Regions from separate parts of the Homo sapiens genome. Here region 1 is linked to region 2. Evidence: fine-mapped expression QTL. A gene starts in region 2. The other region holds a variant in brackets. All regions are shown on one strand. Distances are from middle to middle. Region 1 overlaps CATSPERT (catsper channel auxiliary subunit tau). Region 2 holds the start of TMEM237 (transmembrane protein 237).

Evidence for each region. PIP is the estimated chance that this variant, and not a neighbour inherited with it, causes the effect. A credible set is the group of variants that fine-mapping cannot tell apart.
Region 1: its variant is the best candidate, but not a certain one, in a credible set for the expression of TMEM237 in left ventricle (GTEx, PIP 0.87).

What each region holds. Positions count from the first base shown.
Region 1 is chr2:201,601,530-201,609,529 of GRCh38, forward strand. It overlaps CATSPERT (catsper channel auxiliary subunit tau), which reads right to left. Exons shown (of 16, transcript NM_001168221.2): 2 at 3,082-3,168; 3 at 1,695-1,746; 4 at 210-355. Among named protein-coding and RNA genes, the nearest start is that of CATSPERT, 14 kb to the right of the region's middle. The variant A/T (reference allele first, on the strand shown) is at 4,958.
Region 2 is chr2:201,640,146-201,657,411 of GRCh38, forward strand. TMEM237 (transmembrane protein 237) reads right to left here and starts at 3,358. Exons shown (of 13, transcript NM_001044385.3): 1 at 3,214-3,358; 2 at 748-779; 3 at 116-120. The coding sequence starts at 3,255. MPP4 (MAGUK p55 scaffold protein 4) reads right to left here. Exons shown (of 22, transcript NM_033066.3): 17 at 16,053-16,223; 18 at 14,692-14,772; 19 at 9,927-10,020; 20 at 9,431-9,539; 21 at 7,546-7,680; 22 at 4,729-5,259. The coding sequence ends at 5,065. It also overlaps the pseudogene RNU6-651P. RefSeq lists silencers at 2,457-2,646, 3,217-3,476.

The DNA.
Region 1 (8,000 bases), 43 kb before region 2:
GATTATGCATTTCGCAGTAAAATTGTTTCTTTTTTTAAAACACCACTATAGCCCATGGTATAGAAATAGAATACTGTAAGATACCAAATAAAAAGGCACTTACTGCTTTTGTTTCTTTTCTACTCATTTTTATAAAAAGACAGAATTAGGGTAGAATATTTGGAACTATAAGGAGCCATTCTAATATCTAGAAGAGATATTAACATTACCTGTACAGAAAAATACTTCACTTCATCGAACTTAATTACAGTGTTCTTCTCATCGTTTTTGGATAGCAAGCTACACATTTTTGTACATTTCACAGCTTTGTTTATAGAGATGCGAATGAATAAATTAGCATAATGTTGTAAACTGACTGAAAATAGAATGATATTCAGGAAATAAATTTTGTTGTAATTGAACAATAATACATTATAAAATTAATACATTAAACGATTCAGACCAAAACCTAAGAATCAATCATGTAGCATTAAACAATAGAAAAAAAGTATTCTAAAATAGTATTTTTGCCCATCACTGGTGGACACAATATAAGTAAAAGAAGGTTGATTCTTCCTTACATCCCTTATATTTTTAACCTCACATTTCCAACAAAATTCCTTTGCAAGTTTTGCTATGTATTAATTTCAAGGTGACTAAGTATATGCAATATATAGTTGAAATTTTTCCTAAGGAAAATTATGTAGAAATTCAAAATATTTAAAAATATATCAGATTAACCTATTTTTAATTTTGAGACAAAAAGTGTTCTACTCTAATTCACTTAAGAATATAGTTCATTTATACTATATTGGTCTGTATTGTATCTTTCATAGAATGCTACAGAGTAAAACAATTTTGTTTCAAGATTTAACTATCTTCAAAAATCTCATTATACAGAATTATTTTCCAAAATTCTCTTTATATAAAAAAGAAACATCAAATCTCCATAATGAGGCTGGTTTTATGCTGTGATAAATCTAAAAATAAGCACTCAGCTTGTTTAAAAGCACCAATATAAATTAAATCCTTTTAAAAATGTTTAAAGGAAGCACACATTACTTACAAATAAATTAGCATTATCATACAAGAAGATATATATTTTTCCTTTCATTTATATGGTGATTGAGGTGATTACAGATGGCTGAAAAGCTTTTGTTACTCTCACATCAAAAAGTCCACTTTATTTCCCCTGCCACTAAATCTGGGCTGGCTCTATGATTACATTAACCAATAAAATGTAATGGAATGTGACTAGGGTTGGGACTAGTAAGCCAAAAAGGCACTCAACTAGAGCACAAAATTTAAGGGGACACCAACAACTAGTAATCAAGATAAATAATATATTACTGTGATATATTTTTAAATTAAAATTAATAAAGGGGGATAAAACATGATAGGACTTAGGGAAAGAGAGAGAGATCCAACCATTTCAGCATCCCTGCTAAGTCTAGCCTTCCATGCATCCCCACTAAAGCAACTAGACATGTAAATGGGCCACTTCAGATATTCTAGCCCTTTTGAACTGTCAGACAACAGCCCAAGCTTTTATATCATGAAGCAGAAGAAGCAAATAGTGAATGAACAGTAGTGATTGATGATAAAATGGTCAATGTGTTAAGCCACTAAGTTTTGGAATGGTTTGTAATGCAGCAATGGATAACTGAAACAGTGAGATATAATTACTATGATTCTTAAATCAAAAGAAAGGATACTCTTAGGCATAAAATGTCTGCAGTTCTTTATATGAATGCCCAGGCAGCCAACCTACAACAATCAAAACAAAAACACAGACAGTGAATGCATTTAAAAAGTTAACTGTTCTTTCACTTTACACTGAGCTCTATTTTTAAAAAGTAAAACTCCACGTTGTTGGTTTTTCTCATTTGAAATATTGTTTCTCATGAAAAATATCTAGTTAATAGAAATCATCGGAAAGCAGAAATACAGAAGAAAAATGCGCAGGCCACATTCAAAGTAAACCTAAAATGAACAAGAATACAAAGCCAAAGAATAATAATTCATTATTAACATAAATCTGATCATCACTCTTTAAATTGTTTTTATTTGATATTAGGTGAGAACTGATAAAATATAGCACCCTGCATATAAAATTAAGAAATGTGCCTTATTTCAGACAAACTCTTTTATCCAGTGTCCTAAGACCACTTAATTCATTCAGCAATGATTCATTGGCTATAACATGCCAAGGACTGTAAAATATTCATGCTCTTGCACCAAGTTTTTCTAAATGTTAAAGAAAATTGCATCATGTGCTTAACCAAAAAATCAAATACAAAATAAATGCAGGAACATCTGAATCCTAATATGAGAATTAGCCAAATATATTTAGCCATGTTTAGTATTTAAAACCAAGTAAAAACAACAGAAATATTATATTAAACATTGTATATGATAGGAGGTAGAGGGACAAGAAAAATTCTTATTTCATACCCAGTTACCACTCTAATAGTGTTCAGAAAATAAAAATAACTGTAAATGAATGTCATAATATTTGACAGTTCTATATGCATGTAGATTCTCATGTCTTGTTCTGTACTTTGAAAACAGAATAACAGATTTTTCTGGTTCTCAGCCTAGATACTGCGTCCTCCCTCTGTGTGGTGTGTGTGTGTATGTGTGTGTGTGTGTGTGTGTGTGAAAGAGAGAGGGGGGTGTTTGCTTTTGTTTCTAGGAGGTTTTTTGGATCGGGGAGGGGCGCAGGATCAATTTTCAGACTTTAGCATGATCTAGCAATAAATATAATCACTTTAAGAGCTCAGTAAAATTACTGATTCCCAGGCTCCTCTCCTAGAGATTCTAAGTTAGCAGATCTTAGGTGGAGCCTCAAGTTAATGTTTTATAAAAAGCATCTGAGGTAATTCCGATATAACTAGATTTGGGAATCCCTAATATAGAAGATATTATTTCTGTGAATCAGGATGTTTTCCATAATTTCAGTGATTATTACAATGTTTTTCTGACTCATAAAAATGAAAAATTCATAAATACGCCATCAGAGAGAACCATTTTCTGCATATACTGTTTGATTATCAAATAATAAATAACTTATACAGGTTTTTGAGGGTTACTCATACATACCACATCCCCAAATGGCACCAAATTTGGCGTCTCCTGTGTTATTTCCAGTTCTTCACTATCAGACTCTTTAAGAGTTTTTCTCAGCATCTACAATGTAAATAAATTAAGATTTGGGAAGAGAAAGACAAACATAACTAGATGAAACATCAATTCAATAATTATTGTATGAATCTCTAGTAAGTGTCAGGTCTCCTCGGTATTGGGGTATTAATATGATTAAGAAACTCATCCCTATCCTCAATAAGAAGTTAGTAGAGAAATAAAAATGTACACAAATATAAAATTAAGAGAATCATGAAAGAAGAGAAAAGTACATAGTTCTTCAGTTTGTTAAGAAATTGAATATTTAGTAGGATATCTTGAAAAGCTTATAAAGAGAATTCCAGTTGGCCCTAGTATAGGAGATACTTTGAGTCTGAATCTCTACTCAATCAAATATATATATACATACACACACACACACACACATACACAAACATATATATGCACACATGCACACACATATACACACATATACATGCACATGCACACACACACTATAGGGACAGAAAGCAAGGAAAGAGAAATCTTAAGAGATGCTGGAAAAGAACAGAGAGGAGTAGGGAACACAAAAGGAAGCACAGACAAAATCATCCTGAGAAAGAGAAAGTTCAACATTGAGCACAAAAATTCTGACCACAGGTCTAGGAGTTGGTAGTTCACAGCAATGGCCATAGAGAAGGGACCTGAAAGAGAAGGACCAGAAGTAGCTCATCATGATGCGCACTGCTTCTGGGGTGAAGGCATCAGAGAAGAAGAGGTATCCCTGCATACATGGCAGGGAAGAGAAAGAAGGATATAAGAGGGGAAAATTAAGCATACCAGAAAAACCGAAGAGAACAACAGGTTATGCCCCTCCTTTCCCCTTACCTCCCATCAATTACAACTTCATCCATTTAAAAAAAAACTGCTTCAATACACTGAAAGAAGAGAGTACACTTAAACTATGGCAAAGAAATGACCATGGCCAAGAAATACGGAAAATCCGACCAACTCCATTAAAAGCTATTATAGGGAGAAAATGGGGAGAAATCTTCAGATGACAAAAATTCTTCCTCCCAAATAACCACAAAACAGAAGTAAATTATAACATAAGATTTCAAACTGAATTAAGTATCTTCAAACAAGCATTTGGAGATGTTTTTAAGCCTACAATTAACAATTCATTCATTTATTCAACAATTAAAACAGAAGTTGACCAAAGAGAAGAAAGAAAAAATGAAATGAGTGTTGATCAATTCAGAAAAGAAATTTTTAAAAAAGACAAACCATCCCAGAAATAAATGCTAAATTATAAAGTGCCCAAAGGTAGCATCGATTCAAAAAAACTTTATAAGGGGCATTGAAGAAGATAAGAACCAGTGAAGAGAATGATAATGAGATAGAGAAAGAAGCATAAAGGGTCAGAGAAAAATGGTTGAATTGGAAGGCAGGCAAATGAAAAATCCTCGAAGTAAAACAAAACAATGGAGGAAAAACGAATGTTTAAAGTTATAATCCAAGAAAAATTTAAGTATTAAGAGAAAAATCTGTATGTGGATAGGACTCACCATGTGTCTAGAAAAACTGGCTCATAATGATCAACTCCAAGATGTGTCCTAGTAAGATTATTAGGCTTTATAAAGACATCTTGCCTACAGGCAAATGACCAAATTATCTATGAAGATAAGAAATAAGACTGGCATCATATTTCTCAAGGGCAACATACAAAGCAATGCAACTGCAGAGCTGTATTTTTATAAAGTTCAAGGCAAGGAAGGTCAAGCCAAGGATTTTTATCCAACCAAGTCTATTTTTATCCAACAAAGTAACAGCATTCATGTATCAAGGCTATTTT[A/T]AAAAATACATGAAACAGGCATTCCAGATAACATTTTACTCTTGAGCCCCTCCCAAGAAACCTACTAAAAGATGAGCTTCAACCAAACCAAAAGATAGTGGGGAAAACTTCAGGATAAGACTTATGGAGAGGACAGGCACGGTGGCTCACACCTGTAATCCCAACACTTTGGGAGGCCGAGGTGGGTGTATCACTTGAGGCCAGGAGTTTGAGACCAGCTTGGCCAACATGGCGAAAACCCACCTCTACTAAAAATACAAAAATTAGCTGGGCGTGGTGGTGCACACCTGTAATTCCAGCTACTTGGGAGACTGAGGCAGGAGAATCCCTTCAACCCGGAAGGTGGAGATTGCAGTGAGCCAAGATCGCGCCACCGCACTCCAGCTTGGGCGATAGAGTAAGACTCTGTCTCAAAAAAAAAAAAAAAAAGACTTATGGAGAGCAGTTAATATATTTAACTGCAGAGTTAAGATTAAAGTAAAGATTCAAATGTTACTACTACAGAAACCACCAAACAACTATAATAAATAGTAAGGGAGAAAGAAAGGAACAAAGTACACACAAAACAAGAAATTAATTAATAAAATGATGAGAATAAGCCCCCACCTATCAATAATAACCTTGAATGTGAATGAATTAAGCTCTCCACTTCAAAGATATACACTGGCTAAATGGATCAAAAAAACATGACCCGATCTTTCGGATTTGGGTAAAAGAAGCCAGACCTACTGAGTTTACATTTTGCTTCTGCCCTCTCTGGCTGTGTTACCCTGGGCAAGTTACTTAACCTCTCTAACCCAGAGATGCTGCATGCAATTTGCTGAATCATAACAGAACCTATTTTATGGGGCTCTTGTGAGACTTAAGGAAATTAATATAAATAGGTCAGACATGGTGGCTGACACCTGTAATCACAGCAATTTGGGAGGTCAAAGCAGGAGGACTGCTTGAGCCTAGGAGTTCGAGACCAGCCTGGGAAACCTAGTGATACCGGCCCCCATCTCTACAAAAGATAAAAGTAAATTAGCCTGGTGTGATGGCACATGCCTGTGGGCTGAGGTAGGATCATTGCTTGAGCCCAGGAGTTCAAGGCTGTAGTGAGCTATGATTTTGCCACAGCACTCCAGCCTGGGGGACACACACACACACAAGACTCTGTCCACACACACACAAAATTAATATAAAGAAAGCAACTAATATACAGTACCTGGTATATGGTAATCAATACTTAAGAGTTTACTCTAGTTAAAAACCGAATTGCCTTTCCCAAAAATGCATACGTTGCAATCCTCACTCCTTGTGCCTCAGAATGTCATTGTATTTGGAGATAGGATTTTAAAAGAGGTAATTAGATTAAAATGAGGTCATCAGGGTGGACCCTAATCCCATATGCTGAGAAGAGAGGTCTCAGAAGAAACCAACTCTACCACCTTAATTTTGGACTTCCAAGCCCCAAAACTGTGAGAAAATAAATGTCTGAGGTTTAAAATACCCAGTCTGTGGAGCTTTGTCATGTAGCTCTAGCAACAAATGCTGCTTGCATTATGGGACAGCAATGCTAGATTTTACATATGGTAAGCATTCCTTCTATAAGCATTTATTAGCACCTACTACCTGCTGGCTGAGCTGGGACTCATATAGGGTAATTGCCTCCAGCATAATTTTTTTGGGTCATGGGGCAGACAGGGTCTTGCTTTGTCACCCAGGATGGAATGCAGTGGTACAATCATAGCTCGTTGTAGCCTCAAACTCCTGGGCTCAAGTGATCCTCTCACCTTGGCCTCTCAAAGTACTAGGATTAGAGGCATGAGCCATCATACCCAGCCTCAGGCACAAAACTTAACTGAATGCCAAAAAACTCAGTCACCATGATAATAATGTGTATACACTTTTTTTTAAAATTTTGGTAGAGGGGAAGGGGCATGGAGCTCTCATGCTCTCTCTGGGCATGTGACCCTCGAGGAATATTTTAATGCATGTTTTTAAAAAAATCAAAATGCTTTCCCCACTTCTCACTACTGCACTTCACCAATACTACAAAGAAAATACGCTGGACACAGTGGCTTATGCCTATAATCCCAGCACTTTGGGAGGCCAAGGTGGGCAAATCATTTGAGCCCAGGAGTTCCAGACCAGCCTGGGCTACGTGGCAAAACCACGTCTCTACAAAATATATAAAAATTAGCCAGGCATGGTGGCGAGTTCCTACAGTCCTAGCTACTCAGGAGGCTGAGTTGGGAGGATCACCTGAGCCCAGGAGGTTGAGGCTGCAGTGAACAGTGATTATGCCACTACACTCCAGCCTCTGTGACAGAGTAAGATCCTGTCTCAAAAAAAAAAAAAGAAAGAAACAAACAAAGAAAGAAAGAAAAAAGAAAAGAGAAAGAAAGAAAAATGCAAAAAAGTTGATTAAAAAAAAAAACATGACCCAACTATATGCTGCCTATAAGAAACTCATCTCATCTGTAAAGGCACATACAGAATGAAAGTAAAGGGATAGAAAAAAATATTCCAAGAATAGCTATGCCAGGAGCAGAAGTAGCTATGGTTATATCAGATAAAATAGACTTAAAGTAAAAAACAGTAAAGAGACAATTTAAAAAAAGGTCATTAGGTCATTATATAATGATAAATGTGTCAAATCAGCAAGAGGATATAACAATTCTAAATATATTATGTACCCAACACCAGAGTACTCAGATATATAAATAGTATTACATCCAAAGGGAAGGATAGACTCCAATACAATAATATCTGGGGACTTTAACACACTACTCTCAGCATTAGACAGATCATCTAGACAGAAAACTAACAGAGAAACATGGGATTTAAATTACACATTAAACCAAATAGACCTAACAGACATTTACAGAATATTTCATCCAACAGCTACCGAATACATACTCTTCTCATCACCACATGGAAAATTCTCCATGACAGACTATATCTTAGGACACAAAACAAGTCTTACCAAATTTTAAAACATTAAAATCATATCAAGTATCTTCTGAGACCACAATGGAATAAAACTAGAAATCAGTAA
Region 2 (17,266 bases):
AACATATTGTAGAATTACAAATTACACCATTCAGACTCAGTTTTAAGAGAAACAAACCAAGGAATCAAACTAATTTTTGAACACCAAATATTATATTTACATTAAACTAACTCACCTTGACTAACACGTCATATAACACCAAACAAATTTAATCAGCAGGACAAAGACAAAAAAGAAACAATTAATTAGAAACCTGTTAATATTCACAGTGAAAATTGACTTAAATCATTACAAATTTAAAATAAAATTAGCTTTCACATAATAGCTAGTTTACAAACTAGTTTACTGTTTATAATTAAGTGGTTTAATAACACTGCTAATAAAATAATGTCAATATTTTCTGAACCTACATATACATATTCCCTACTGTCTATTAATAAAATGGATTAAGCAGATTAAGAACTCTTACTTGTGACTGATTAAAATCAGCTTAAACTCTGAGGAAACTATTCTCACAAAAGACCAGAATTCTGATTTAAAAAAAAAAAGACACCAAAACAGTTAGAAAGGGAATGGATCCATTATCCTACCATGTTGATATTCAGGCTTTTAAATATAACATTCCATTATAACTGTTATTCTTAAAATTCAAGGATTTTTCACCTTTAAAATTTCAGAAAATCCCTAAATTTTTCAGAAGAGTTTCCTGAATCATTGTAATTTTGCAATGATACTAGTCAATTTTTCCACTGTCTTCATTTTCCATTTTTAAAGCTCAATAATGAAATTACTGTAAATTATTTTTACCTTGGCACAGGTGGAAGAGCTCGTGGAGGACGCTGTGGCGGAAAAAATAAATTTGCTTGTAAGTAAAAGCCTAGAGCATCTTTACTTCAAATACCATCACGCTATTTTTTTTTTTTTGAGATGGTGTATTGCTGTGTGGCCCAGGCTGGAGTGCAACGGCACGATCTTGGCTCACTGCAGCTTCCATCTCCTGGGTTCAAGCAATTCCCCTGCCTCAGCCTCCCAAGTAGCTGGGATTACAGGCACCCACCACCATGCCCGGCTAATTTTTGTATTTTTAGTAGAGACGGGGTTTCACCATGTTGGCCAGGCTGGTCTTGAACTCCTGACCTCAGGAAATCCGCCCACCTTGGCCTCTGAAAGTGGTGGGATTATAGGAGTGAGCCACTACGCCCGGCCAAAGCAATTCTTTCAAAAGTCTGTTGTTCAGACATGACAGAAAAATATAATGGATCAGACTAGGATCTTCAAATCTCTTGATAATCTTGTTCATCAGTGAAACCTGGGAGGTACTGATGAGAAACATGGGCAATTTAAAATTTGTTCTCCCATCCTAAATTTCATATAAAATTCCTTCCTTCCTACATTCCTTTCCATCTCTAGGCCAGGCCCTTTTCTAAGCATTAGGAATACACTAATGAACACAATGGAGAGAACTCTGCTCTTATGAAACTTACATTCTAGTGGTTGAGTATTAGAAACAATGTTAAAAATATATATATGATAATATATACTATATATTATATGCAGCATGTACGATAAAATATATTTATATGCTATATTTAAGACATATCTTGTATACATATCGTGTGTGCATATATATATATATACACAAGATACACACACACAAAACGTAATGAATGAAGGAGACTGAGTGCTACTTTTGTTAGGGAAAGTTTCTCTGAGTTTGAGCTGAGACCTGAATGAGAAAGCAGCAACCGGAACAAATGCAAATATTTTTAGGTTAAATTGGGCTTGGAATGTTTCAGGTAAAAGGACAGCAAGGCTGCCGCACAATTACCAAGGAGAGGTAGGCAGGAGCCAGATTAGTTAGGGCCTTGCAGACCAAGGGAAGTTTGGATTTTGTTTTAATTCAATGGGAAACAAATGGAGGTTTTAAACCACATACTAACACAATTTTTAAAAAGGCCAGTTGCATACACTGGGAAGAATGCGTTTTAGGGCAGAAAGAAAGGTGGGGGGAACCCTTCTAAACCCTCATTTACATGAATAAGAAAAGTGTTTGTAGTTCAGACAGCATTACAGTTGAGAAGTATTTTAGAATCATATAGTAACAGAAATGCCTAGAAGCCAATTTAATGTTCCAAGTATCTCATGCTGCTTGCATAAGACATTTATTCAAAAGGGTTAAATTTTAGACACTCTTGTAGTTTGTCCCATTTAGCAATCCATTCGTTCGAACAGTAGATTAATGCAAGTACTACAAGATTAGGACGAGGCAAGCTGCCGTAATACCATCCAGTAGTCAAAATTACAATTGGAGAAGAATGACAGTCACAGGAACGCGCTATTGTTCTAAAGATGCTACGAAGCGCGCGCGATCGATCCCAGGGCTCTGTTCACGTAACTGATTTCAAAAGTCCCGCAAAAATGACGTTCCACCCACCCAGAGACCCAACCTCTAATCCTCAAAAGTAGGACGGCTCAACTGAAGACAAAAATCCTAACAATTAAAAGTAGCTAAGGCTCGCTTACCACAGGATTCTTCCCCATTCTGCGTTTAGCCGGCCTCGGCGGCCGCCGGCCCCCAAGCACCTGGCGCCCCACCCCTCCCGGCTCGGTCGCGCGCGCAGGCGCAATGCGTCATCGGGCCGCGCCGCCTGGCTAGTACCCCGCGCGCAGCGCCCTGCGGGGATGTTGCGGTGAGAGGCGTGCAGGGACCTGGATTGGCCAGTCCAGACTAGCCCTGCCAAAAAGGGGGCCTCGGAGTTGGGGGTAATGTGCCCAGGAGCAGAAATCTGGCGACCGTGGCGCTGCAATCACAGCTTTCCCGTGGTTTCCTAAGTGGTGGCGGTGATTTGTTTGCGGGAAGCGGGGCGTGACGGAAGACCTTAATTAAAGGACTCCGCAGGCGAACAGATCTCTTCTGGGCAGCTACAGACCTCTCCTCGGAGGAGTCTAGGAGAGGCCTGGCTGGAAGCCCCGGCACCCGCCGGGCCCCGGGCCTCAGATGAGTGAGGCGTCGTCGTGGCAACGCGGGCTCAGGTCCCCGCAAACTTCATGCCAGGCCTCTCTCTCCCACTCCGGGAGTTCGGTCCCGGCCTCGCCTGCGTCTCCGTCCCATTCCTGTGAACACTGGAGGGGCGGATGCGCGCACCCCACGAGCAAGGCCCTCCCTTAGTGATTCCCAGCTCGTTGGCGCCCCCCCACACACACCCACCCCCACTGCCAAGTGTAGCTGTTTACCCGCCACCTCTCGAGGCCGACGCGCCCCTCGCCGCTCACCAGGTGGCCCTCCTCCAGCCGAGCCCCCGAGTCAGTCCTCATGGTGCTCTCCCCGCGGGGCTGCCCCGGCGCAACCGCCGGCGGCCCGAGCCCAGCTCCCCGCGACGCAGCGGCCTCCGGGACCTGTGGGACGCCGGGGCTTCGTGGCGCCTGGCGAGGCAGCCGCCCCCTGAGCCAGGTCCCCGCCCGCCTCTGTCCTGCCAGGCGCTGCTGGGTTTGGGAGGAATGCGTTTACTCTCCAGGACCAACGAGTCTGTGCAGGCCTGGGTGTGTGGATGTGTATTAATATAGGCAATTCTCACATTTTCTCCGATTGCTTACCCTTCATCCCACAACTGTGTAAATCAAATTTGGAAAAACTTTTTCTCAACCTTAAAATCAAATCCAACCTCACATAAATATCACTACAAACTACCTGATTTGCATCGTTTGGTTTGGTTGGGTTTGTTTTTTTTTAAAGATAACTTTCACTTTAAGTAACAGAGAACTACAAATATTTTGAATCATGCATTCTGTTTTACAGTTAAGAAAGAAATGGGAAAGATGGAAGAATGGTGTGGATATGGAGAAGAGAATGATGCAGAAGATGAACAGATACAGGGACAGGGAAAGCGCCTGGAAATCTCAAATCTGGGGAAAGAAAGAGAAACAGCACTTTGTAATGGCATCCTAATCTTGTTACCAAACAAACGGGGCTTGTTGCCCTATACGCACAGAAGCCAATATTATGGCGCTGATTTTTTGAGAAAAGTTTTCATTGTGAGTCAGCTAACAAGGAGACAGGAGTATAGCTCTAATCTGTCTCCCTGTGTTGGCTTTAAGACAGTATTTTTATTAGAAAACGTTTAGGGGGTGGATTCTGGGATTAGTAGGTGATTGGTGGAAGGAAAGAAGCCATCTGGAAAATCCTCTGGCGTTCGCAGTTACCTCTTCATGTCCCTTCATGGGTCGCATGTGCAAATTTTGGAGGGAGTCAGTGTGAAACATGGGGAAAGATTCAAGCTGTGACGCCAGCAAGCTCATTTTGTACAGACTCCAGGTAGCCATCCGTGTTAGTACTAACCACTTTCAGCCAGTTTGCTTTGTTTTGTTTTGTTTTGTTTTTTAATCTCACAATGGAAGAAGTTTAGGCGTTTTATTTAGCAAGTTGTTTTTTATCTGCCGTCCTGCATGCTCAAGAATTTCTGTTAGTCCCTGGTTTCTTTAACTCTGAGACACGGTTTCACTCTTGTGATTTTCTATATATAGGTCTCTGGGATTAATCCATTGCCTTTTTCTAATTTAGGCCTGCATGTAGATATTGGCTGTTAAGGAAAATTAGTGTTTGTCACACCTCTCATGAGAATAATTTTTTCCTTGTAGGCCGATTTGTAAATAGTGAAGGCAGTGCAGTTTCTTGTAGGTTTTGATTTTAGATGTGAAATGTGTACATTAAACCTTTCTTGCTGAGTTAGTCAAGTAAGCACTTTTTGTAAAAGATGTTTTCATAAAACACGTTTCATAGAGTACAGTTTCTAAAGTTAACTATTGCTTATTTTATTTAGGAAAGCTCTTTATTTAAATCTTAAAAAGATCATGTGAAATCTGCGAAAGGTTCTCATACTCAGTGACTTAACATTATTCATATTTCTACCACAGCTGCATATGAGGTAAAGGAAAAAAAATTAAGTTAAAATAGGTAACCACATAACCATACAATAAAAATTTTTTTCAAATAAGATTAATTAATAAATTGCTGCACTTTTAAAGTTGTACACATTAAAATGGGTCAAATACTGTTGTTTTAGATTGCAACTATGGATCGCTGTATCAAGGGTACAGTGTTAAAACTCCAGCATTAAACAAGAAGTCTCATTGAGACTCAGTATCTGAGGAAATCCATGTTGCTGGTACCCACTGAGGCTCCTCCTGAGCCTTCTGTATGGCAGACAACAACTGGGCACATGCATCGTGCAAGCTGTCATTCACAATCACATGATCAAAAAATTGGCCAAACTGAGTTTCCATTCTTTGGGCTAAATTTTCCATCTCTTGTAGGTCTTCATCCTTTAGGAGAAATAGAAAAATATGGATAGTACAGACTTAATTGGACAAATGGAAAAAATACAGTTTGTTATGCTGTCACATTCAGTTGTGAAACTATGTATAAAAACAGTAAGGTCCGAAAATTTTGCACAGATGATTTTCAATAAAGTTTCAAAAATATTTTTTCAAAATTCTACAAAACCAGCAAACTAGAAAATAGTAATTTTTTTGCCCTCTGTTATTGAAATAATGTGGCTAAGTATAGATAAAATAATTTTTTTTTTTTTTAGACAGGGTCCCACTCTGTCCCAGGCTGGCATGCAGTAGGATCATCTCAGCTCACTGCAGCCTCTGCCTCCCAGGCTCAAGTGATCCTCCCACCTAGGCCTCCCAAGTAGCTGGGACTATAGGCACATGCCATCATGCCCAGCTAATTTTTGTAGAGAAAATATAATTATTATAACAGGTATAAACATATCCTTCTAAATTAATGTGAAGCATAAGCAAAGCTGGGAAAAGTATATCACTATCCACAGTATGTCATCCTTTATTTCTTAGAAATGTATTACTGAGATAAAGAAATTTTAATTTGGAAGTTTTTTTAAATAATAAAAGACTGAAGTTTTTATTTTAAAAAATGAGGTCCAATAAATGTCTTCTAAACTACAAAACTTATGTTTTAATCTTTAGTCTTAATGTCTCGTCATGTTTTGCAAAATTTAGTCATAGTTTGCAGACAGATTACTCCCCTCAACTTCCCGTGTGAACTTATCTTACTCTTACCTAAACACTTGAAACTTTTTAACCATATACAACATAAAACCAAAGAAAATGTACCAGTTTAAATAAAATTTAAACATAAATTTCAAGTGAACATTAATCTGATAGGGATAACATTAAAGATACAAAATGGCCACTTTCAACATGAGGATGGTATAAGCCAGTTATATTATGTTTCTACTATTGTGAAATGTTCATTTAATGAAGGTAATTTGGCATTCACTTGGCACTAATGCATTAAATTCATTGCTGTTATTTTCTTATTAGTTCATGAAAATAGTACAACTTGTCACCAATACAATCTGAAACACAAATGCAGGCACCAAAATCTTGTGGCTTTACAAAGTGACCATACATATGATCCAGAAACAATTTTGTTAATTTGTTTAGACTGCCATAAAAATGAGAACAATTTTAAATGCCCATAAGACTCAGCAAATACATTCATGGACTCCACTGTTCACAAGGCAAACTGGAAAATCAGACCTCCATAGTCATTGCAAAAAATATGAAAATAAAAATAATAAGAGAAAGGATAATTTAAAGATACCTGTGCTTGCTTTGGTAGCACACAGACTAAAACTGAAACAATGCAGAGATTAGCATGGCCCTTGTACAAGCATGACATACAAATATTTAGTGAATCATTCATATTTTTAGTTTCAATTTTGCCAGGTAAATAAATTCTAGAGCTCTGTTTCACACAATGTGAATATACTTAACACTAAATACTAACACTGAACTGTACACTTAAAACGGTTAATATGGTGAGTTTTATGTATTTTTACCACACATATACACACACACACAAGTGGCTGTAATATCTTGATGTGGGTGATGGTTATCTGGGTGCATACACACATAAAAATTCATTAAACTGTACACTCTGTACACCTTACTGAATGTATGTTATGACACAATATTTAAAGCATATTTAATGTAAAATATATGTACGCAACCGGAAAAAAAATCACCTGTTCTAGGATGAGATCACTGATTAATTTCACTTGGCTTGCCCCCTCTATTATTACCATCATCATTTTACAGATGAGATATACTCACTGAGCATTTTTAAAGTAAGCTTTTAAGTAAAAGATATTCTGTTTAAAATACAAACACCAGGCTCATACATGCCCAATTTCTGTTTGGCTTTGCAAACTACGGCTCAAGGATTTTTTTTTAAGCTAGACCCAAAAAAATAAGAAAGTAAAAAATAAGGGTAGCATCATAACATTTATTAAACTTTATATCTGTAAGTGATGTCCATCCAAAAGGATAAATCGTAAGGGCATTATCCATTAGAAACAAAAATTACATTCTCTAACACAGATCCTGTAGAAACAATACAGTTTTAATTTTTTTTTTAAATAAAACCATAGTAAACCATTTTATTGAGGGCCTTTTGGAGAGGGGGTCAAAAAGGAGGAGGAGGACAATGAGATCAGAGATCCTTGGCCCAGCCCAACCCAGATCTCTCCCACGCAGAAGCCACTGAAAGCAATACAGTAGTTTTTGACTTGCTCTTACCTTGAACTTCATGTCCACATAGTAGTCAGTAATAACCTTGGCATTTTTCCGAGATTGTTTCATACACCTCATATTCGATGGCTTTATAAATATGACATAGGGCTTCAGTTCATGGGTTCGAACCCCTTGAATATCCTACACAGAAAATTTAAATGCACATTTATTTTTTGTTTGTTTTGTTTTGAGACATGGTCTTGCTCTGTCACCCAGGCTGGAGTGCTGTGGTGCAATCACAGTTCACTGTAGCCTCAGCTTCCCAGGCTCAAACGATCCACCCATCTCAGCCTCCCAAGTAGCTGGGACCACAGGCATGTGCCACCATGCCCAGCTATTTTGTTTTGTTTTATTTTGTTTTTGAGTCTCATTCTGTTGCCCAGGCTGGAGCGCAGGGGTGGGATCTCTGCTCACTGCAACTACCGCCTTCCCAGTTCAAGCAATTCTTGTGCCTCAGCCTCTCTAGTAGCTGGGATTATAGGCGTGTGCCACCACACCCAGCTAATTTTTGTATTTTTAGTAGAGATGGGGTTTCACTATGTTGCCCAGACTGGTCTCAAACACCTGGCCTCAAGAAATCCTCCCATCTCGGCTTTCCAAGGGATTATAGGCATGAGCCACTGCACCTGATCTAAATGCACATTTAAAAACAGAAGTCCTAGCTTTCTAGAGTGAACATGAAGCTTCTCAAAATTTCTAAGACCAGAAATTAGCAATTATTTTTAGAGTATAGTCTCATGTACCCTCAACTCCTCAATTCTAAAAAACAAATGAACATTTTAAAAATTTGAAGATGTAGTTTTAGAATCAAAATTAAGGTCAGATCCTGACTCTTATTAGCTATGACTAGCAATTGAAATCTTACTAGCAGAGTAAGAGTCTATACATGAGAGAATCTCATTTACTGAGAGTAGGATTCTATACATGATCTCATATGACAAAGACAAAGACAGACTCTCAAGGTGGATCAGCTCTGTTTCACCTTCACTTCCCTTTCCTCTTGCTATTATCTCACATTGGATACTACTACCATCTGTTTTCCTCTGATTCTCTAGCACACAAAGTATATTTCTAAATGACTAAGAAAACATGGCTGGGCGCAGTAGCTCATGCCTATAATCCCAGCACTTTGGGAGGCTGAGGCAGGTGGATCACTTGAGCCCAGGAGTTCCATTGCCAGACCAGCCTGGCAAACATGGCGAAACCCTGTCTCTACTAAAAATACAAAAATTAACCAGGCATGGTGGCTTGTGCTTGTAGTCCTAGCTACTCGGGAGGCTGAGGCACGAGAATTGCTTGAACCCGGGAAGCGGAGGTTGCAGTGAGCGGAGATCATGCCACTGCGCTCTAGTCTGGATGACAGAGCAGGGCCTTGTCTCAAAAAACAAAACAAACACAGACACACACACAGACACACACACACACACGAAGAAAATACAAAGTTCATAAAAATTGGGCCTACGGATTGCATGCTGTTTATCTTACCTTAACTTGCTCACCCCTGCTCCATTCTACATGTGGTCTCAGGAAGGTAGCCACAGATATGACAACATAGAAACCTCACCTCCTTGTACAAAGCAACATCTTATTCACTCCACAAGAAGTTACTCTGATGCCTTTGTGATCAAGGTTAAAGCAAGAAAGATTCTTGCTTCTCTTTGTGACCACTCAATCAGTTCTGCTTTTCTGTCTGAGAAGCAAGACTTCTTTCCCAACTAAAAGTAAAATGTTGTCAATTGACACGTTAAGTAAGATCTTATATATGGGAAATGGCCTTATTCTTAAAAGGCTAACAGAATAAATGTCTCAACTATAACCTACAGCATGTGCACAAAAAATGGATGATACGCATTCATTGTTTGGGGACATAAATATTCCACCATGGACCCACCTGAGGCTCTAGGTCCATGACACAGATCTTTCCTTCGACAAGGACTGTTTGAACAGCATCCACACTAGTGCCATACAGGTGGCCTTTGTACTCACCATACTCCAGCATCCTGCAAGAGCAGGCCAAACAAAACAGAACACTTTCTACAAGGAAAATATTATTAGTAGTAACATGAGGATAAACTGCACTAGAGTTGAATATAAATATGTGGACTTTATTAACACAGAAAGAATGAATAGATATTCAAGAGGTGAACAAAATGAGCATATCTAGAGTTTATGTATTTCCTCAAGTTCTCCAAGGTTTGCAGACTCCATTCTGCTCCCTTTCTAAACCCAGTGAGTTGGTGTGCTGTATATCGATGTACATTTCTTGCTTAACTCCTCAGAAACAAAAGGAATTACCCAGGAGATTTGGAAAATACATAAAAATAGGGAATCTATTTCAAATGTAAAACAACAAGAGGTAAGAATCAGCTTCTGAACCTCTACTTTACCTGTGACTATATATGAGGTTTTCAAATGTTTCCTTGGACACATAGTGATACTCACGCCCATTCATTTCGTAACTCTTTTTAGTACGAGTAGTGTCTATCAGAAAAAGGGAATGAAAGGTTTCAGTGTCTTCAGAATTCTTTGATTACCAATATGCATTTGAATAAAGATATCTAATCAAAATAAATAAATGAATATATAATCAAGGAGATAAAATGCTAGAACTAAAAAGAAGAAGCCTGAATTGGTGATAAGTTCTCGTATCAAAATCAGTTAGTCTATAAACCTTTACTGAGTGCTTATGGTATGAAAAAGAATGCACTAGGTATTAAGCCAGCATAAGAAAGACCTAAGGGAACACCTGTTATTACTTCAAAATAAGTGCTAGTGAATTATGTGTGAACCTTTAGATGCCTGAAAGCTCCCAGGTAGCAATACCAATAATATCTTACATTTGGATAGTGCATTTCCCATGATCTCATTTCATCTTCCACACTCTTACCTTAGGTAAACTGTTAATATCTATATTTTACTCATAAGAAAAGCTTTTGGAGAAACTTGCTCACATTCATAAGACTGATGAAAAGCGAAGTTGAAATTAGAACCTACGTGTTCTGACTCCTCTAGATGAGTGTTTTTTACAACAATAGATTCTCAAATTTGAAATGGAGAAAGCCCATGACATTCTGCAATCTTGACCAGATGCATTAATACCCAACCGAGTGGTGATTCGTTTTAGGGATCTCTAGGAGGGAAAGATTAGCTGAGTCTAGATTCAGTCTGATTCTTTGATATGGCCACTTTGATTACAGACTCTTCAACTTAAATAGTGCCAGGTTGTATAGAATATAGGAGTTCATCAAATATCTAAAAGTTATTTGTTGTCTGCTCATTCATTTATTCAACTAGTGTGTACTGAGTGCCTACTATGTTCCAGGTATCATGTTAGGTTCTGAAAACACAAAGATGAGTAAGACAGTTTCAACTCTGCATCCTATATACTGTAAAGCTAGTCCCTTAATCTATATTACCATTAGTTCCCCTTATTCATACAGAATTTGTGTATTTGCATCTGACAAAGTTTAAGGATGAAATAGATCAACATCTGATGATATCAATACATGGAAATGATCAAGTAGAAGCTAGAAACCGGCCTTAAATTATCAAAGGAGTTACCAACCTTCAAGGGGGTCTAAAAGCAAATGTCATCTTGGGGTCATTTTTGTTTTTTCCTTATTCAAGCCTCTCATCAGATCCTTAGAGTTCCTACAGTTACATCACATCTCCCATAGCTTCCTACTTAAAACAAAATTCTAGTAAAACCTTATAGCTCTCAGGTGATAGTGAATTATGTCAATCTAAACCCAAGATGACTCCTCCTTTGCTTCCACTGGACTAATATTTATATGGTAGGTTAAAGTCTGTGAATTGATGTATAACTCGAGGTATCCATTTTAAGCTTAAAACCTCAATTTAAAAAGCAAAATATGAGCAGTATTTTCTCACTTTGAATGATTAAAAATCTACGTTGATATTCTTAAAATTCTTCTATATTCTGTGGGCATTTTATTTTTATTCAGACTATCGAAAAATGGTGATTTTGGCCGGGCACAGTGGCTCACGCCTGTAATCCCAGCACTTTGGGAGGCCAAGGCGGGTGGATCACCTGGGGTCAGGAGTACAAGACCAGCCTAGCCAACATGGTGAAACCCCATCTCTACTAAAAATACAAAAATTAGCTAGGCATGGTGACGTACACCTGTAATCCCAACTACTCAGGAGGCTGAGGCAGGAGAATTGCTTGAACCCAGGAGGTGAGGTTGTAGTGAGCCGAGATAACACCACGGCACTCCAGCCTGGGCAATGCAGTGAGACTCCATCTCAAACAAAACAAAACAAACAGAAAAAAAAAAAGAAAGAAAAGGAAAATGTTGATTTCTTTGGTAGTTTTTGCTTTTCAGATTAATGCACATTCCTGTACATGAAAGCAGTACTTCAGAAAGCACAGCCTATAGCATGCGATCATAAAGCAACTTCTTGGTCTCCCACAGCCCTTATGTGAGGCAAGATCTTCCCCAGCCCCTGCACAAAATTCTAGCAGTTTCCTGGCCGGGTGTGGTGGCTCATGCCTATAATTCCAGCACTTTGGGAGGCTGAGGTGGGCAGATCACTTGAGTTCAGGAGTTGGAGAACAGACAGACCAACATGGTGAAACCCCATCTCTACTAAAACTACAAAAATTAGCTGGGCATGGTGGTGGGTGCCTGTAATCTCAGCTACTCGGGAGGCTGAGGCAGGAGAATCACTTGAACTCATGGGGCAGAGGTTCCAGTGAGCCAAGATCACACCACTGCACTCCAGCCTGGGCGACAGAGCAAGACTCCGTCTTAAAACAAAACAAAACAAAACAAAAAACACTAGCGGTTTCCATGACTCTTTCACTCAGGTTTAATTTTAAAAGTCTATCATCACTCATGCCACAATTTCATTTTCATCATCCAGTCTCAACTGACTAATTAAAATTCCATTCTCACATAATCATCAAAATTATAAACTTCACTTAGATTTTAGGCTGCTTCTCCACACATCTGGCTCAAATTTGCTGCACCAGGGAAGCCTGCGCTCAGAGAAGCCAGACGAGAGCCAGACGAGAGTATGAGTCACTTCTCTTTCCTTTCACCATATTTCTACTGCTCCTGCTTCTCTCTGCCCCCGATAGATCTCACTTCCACTGGTTTAGAACTCTCTAAGGCTAGAGTGCAGGGAGGGAGAGGAAAGCAGGAAGGAAGGTTCTGGTTTGGCAAATACTGATTCTGGCTGCTATTGGCTTTCTTTAGATTTGGCAGATCCTTAAATCCGGCTCTTTCTCTCCTAAATGATATATTGGGTTATTTTGCAAACCCTATCTCACCAACACAAGGCCTCTCAAGTCCATTCCTATTCCAGTTTGTCATCTGTGATTCCTTCCAAAGCCTGATATATTTGGGAATCCACTTTTGGCCTTTTTCTCCTCAGGCTTCCTCCTGGGCAGGAATCATATAACCCTGGGCTGACTGTCTTATACATTACCTGCCCAGATCTGGTCCTTGGGGAACATCACAAGTCTAGCTGTGATGGACCCTACAAGGACAGCTACTTCCCAAATTATAGCCATTGGCCACTTCCTGTAAGCTCTTCTCCTTTGGATTTTTCAGGTGTAATTCGGACACCATTCTTCTGTGTCCCCCAAAGTGCAGAAGACACATAGGAAGCTCTCCAAGTGGTTCCCCTAGGTTCCTCTGTCTTGCCTTGAGGGGAGGGGGAAGCAAGCACACCCACACACTCTTCCCACACTCAGTGGGTCGGGAACACCCAGCACCGCTCTCTCCAATAAAAGCCTCCCCAAAAAGCCCCATGAATCTCCCTCCCCAAGCCTTTTATACCCTCGAGGTGTGTGAAGAGTTTAACTTGTTTTCACATTCCTCGTTACAGATGTGCATCTTAGTGCCTCAGTCAAAATTTTAACTTTCTTTTACACATATTAGAAACGATGCATTATTATACATTATTATAAACATGCATTATTATGAACTTTCTATTTTGTTGAAATCAGGAATTCTATCTCAAGTCTTGATCTTTTCTATTTTTACAATAAAACAGGTTGTCTTAGAGTGATTTTAAAGGTTTTTTTTGAACGATGAATCTCAGTATGAAACAAATAATTCCTTCTATTTTTAGAATTGTAGCTCTCAAATGTTAAAGCTTAAAAAAAAACTTCATATAACAACTCTAAATGGGTAAAAAACTCACACAACTCTATATAGAGAAAAGTCTGGAAGATTACGTTTTAGGAGTTGCTTTGGAGCTGGTAGTAGTAAAGGGGGAGCTTAGGAGAAATAAAGGAGTTACGAGTAAAAGGAAATAAGAAAACACTTTTTTTTTTTTCGAGTCAGAATCTCACTTTCTCGCCCAGACTGGAGTGCAATGGTGCAATCTCGGCTCACTGCAACCTCCGCCTCCCAGGTTTAAGCGATTATCTGTCTCAGCCTCCTGAGTAGCTGGGATTACAGGCATGCAGCACCACACCCAGCTAATTTTTGTATTTTAAGTAGAGACGGGGTTTCACCATGTTGGCCAAGCTGGTCTTGAACTCCTGACCTCAGATGATCCACCCACTTCAGCCTCCCAAAATGCTGGGATTACAGGAGTGAGCCACCGTGCCCAGCCAGAAAACACCATTTTTTAAAAAGCTGTGTATTTTATAATCATACTCATAAATTTATATAAAGTTGTATAGGCATATATCAATTTTTAGATAGTAAGCACTGGGTGTATGTTAACTATTATTGCTAACTATTAGTTTGCCTGAAAGGCCATCCCTATAATGTTAAGAAATAGAAAAAAGCCATTTTAGACTGTTGTGGGGTAGGGGGAGTGGGGAGGGATAGCATTAGGAGATATACCTAATGCTAAATGACGAGTTAATCGGTGCAGCACACCAACATGGCATATGTATACATATGTAACAAACCTGCACGTTGTGCACATGTACCCTAAAACTTAAAATATAATAATAATTAAAAAAAGAAAAAAGCCCTTTTAAAAGCCAGCTGCCTACATTCCAATAAGTCAGTTTTCCTTATTAAAATAAATATGGTTAGAAATACTTAAGAACTATCCCTGGTGTTGTATACTTTTACAACAAAGATGGAATGACATAGTTAAATGAGATCAGCAAAGAAAGTTTTACCAAAACACAAACCATTATGAAAGCAGAACTAAACATACGTGGCACAGCACTTTGAAAATGGCTGGGATTAAATTCAATAAGTTGTCTTCTGAGCTCATTTACTCCAACACCAGAGGGTCCTAAACACAAAAAGTCACACACAGAAATCATCAGATGTGGATAAATATAATTATGTGATGGAATTATCATTTTAGTCCTTCTACTGAAGAAACTTGAGAGCAAATATTTTTAGGGAAATTATGTAACTTCCTTTCTCATAAATTGGAAGAACCCCAGAAAACTCTTGGGAATTTTTCTAGTGACCCATGGAGTAATCCACATTGTTTCAACATTCAGGAATGAGGTAAGGAATCACAGGAACCTGACCCCCAGCAAACTTCATCTAATGTTGAATGCCATGAGAATTAGCTGGTCTCATTTTAGAGAATCAGAGAGCTCTGCCTTTCTTCTTCAAATGAGGTTTTTATCAAGTGACAGCCAGAAACCAGCATCAACAATTATAGGTTCTGTGACTTACAGAATTCAGGGGCACATTCCTGACAGATGATCGATCAGCACCCCCATGTCCGGCCGGAGGCAGGGCCGACTTCATGGGTATAGAACCTGTGCAGTTACACAGGGCACATGCTTAGAAGGATACTGTGCTTGGATGAATTCTCTACTATTGCATCTTGAAATCTTTGATAATTTTTTAACAAGGGGCCCTTGCATTTGCATTTTACAATGGGGCCTGCAAATGATATTGCTGGTCCCAGCTGTAAGGCACATCGTTCTGCTCTACAGGGACCTGCCTTGCTCATGAAGCTAAACAGGCAGACACGAAGGCAGTAGGATACAAGTTGCTACTGCTACAGGGACCAACTTTGCAAAAGTCATGGTCACAAAAGCAGGTCACTCCTGCACTATCTTTGCCATGATCTTTATAAAGCACCAAAGATACAGTCCAGAAGATGTTAGATACTTTTCTAAAGGAAGTAGTTACAAATTTCTTAGGGGAATGGACTTTAAGAATTTAACATATTTCTCAGGGAAATGGACCTTAAGAATTTATTTTCAGGATACAGGTTAATGATCTGTCTGGGGAAACACTCATCTATGTTTACAGAACAATTCTAAGCAGGCAAAAAAAAAATCTCAGTCATAATGACATCGTAATACTGGTTATATAGTTCATGGACACCATGTCATAACACATTCACTTGTAGATTTTTTAAAAAGCTTGATACAATAAAATGTTACTTATAAACACACATGTACAATGGCTTTGTTTTTTAAAAAAGGTATTTGTATGGGGGTCCATAAAGAGTTCTACTTTCACCATTATTCCCAATGCAAGACACCTGAATCTAGAAGGAAGACTTCTCAAGGAGGAGGAGAGACAGTGCATGCTGGGACATACCCATGAGCACTATGAGGCGGTACTTGTCTGAAGGGCGTCGCTGGTACCTCACCACCTCCTCGTAAGGGGCACCCACTGCACTGTAGCAGCTGCCGGTGCAGCACACACTGGCATGCAGCGGGCTGAGGTGAGACTTCCTGCGACAAAGGCGCATGCTGCGGCGGAAGCCAGCTAGGGAGGGGAAGTGCACAGAACGTAAGAACCAGGCAGGAGAGATCACTTGTAGCTTCACACCTGATGAAATATGTAGCAACCATGATCCTAAAGTGTTCATTAATATAGTCAGGTCTGTCTGAAGTTAGAAGATGGGAAGTAATATGAGGGAAAAATATGAAAATGCCCCCTGTGCTAGCCCATCTAGCACCTGCTCTGGGCCAGGCATTGTCTTGGGTGCTGGCGATAGATGGCTCAACTAATCCAAGGCCACTTTCTCATGAAATCTACATTTTGTAGAAGAAGAGAGACAAACATAAAAAACAACAAAAAATAAGTACTCATAAGAAGATGAGGTAGATAGAGAGTGATGGGGGTGCTTTTTTAGATAGGCAGTAAGGTTGGAGTATCTCTGAAAGGTTGGCGTTGAGCAGACATCTGGAGGAAGGCAGGGAGCCACATCAGGAAGCCTCTGCAGAGACGGGCAAGCCAGGCCAAGGGAACAGCAAGTGCAGTGGTGCAGAGAAACGAACTGTGCTTGGAGCATTTGAGGAACAGCAAGGAAGCCTGTATAGCTGCAGGGCGGTAAGCAACAGGGAGTATGGAAATAGGGTCAGGGAAGTGGCTGGAGCCAGATCACACAGGGCCTCTGAAAGTGTTGGATTGTTGTGGAAGTGTGATGGGAAGCTGTTGGTAGTGACATGATTTGATTCATGTTTCTGAAAGACTCCTCTGGTTGGTGTAAACCGTAGGGAGAGCAAGTGTGGCCTCAGGAGAGAGCAGTTAGGAAGCTACTGCAGTGGTCTGGGTGGGAGATGAGGGTGGCTTGGGCCAGGGTAGAAAGAGTGGAGCAGGCTCATTTTTCACATTTTTCAGGTGGTTTCACTAAGACACAGACAGGTTAGGTGGTTGCTTAGGACTGTGTGATCAGTGCAAAGTTGGACACATGGGTCATGATTTCTAAGCTCCTAGATTCCTGCTTAATCTGCCTTTCGAATCATAGGGCTTTCTGGTATCTTCAGAGCTGTTTCCAGGTGCTCTCAGTAGACAGAGTTAGCAAC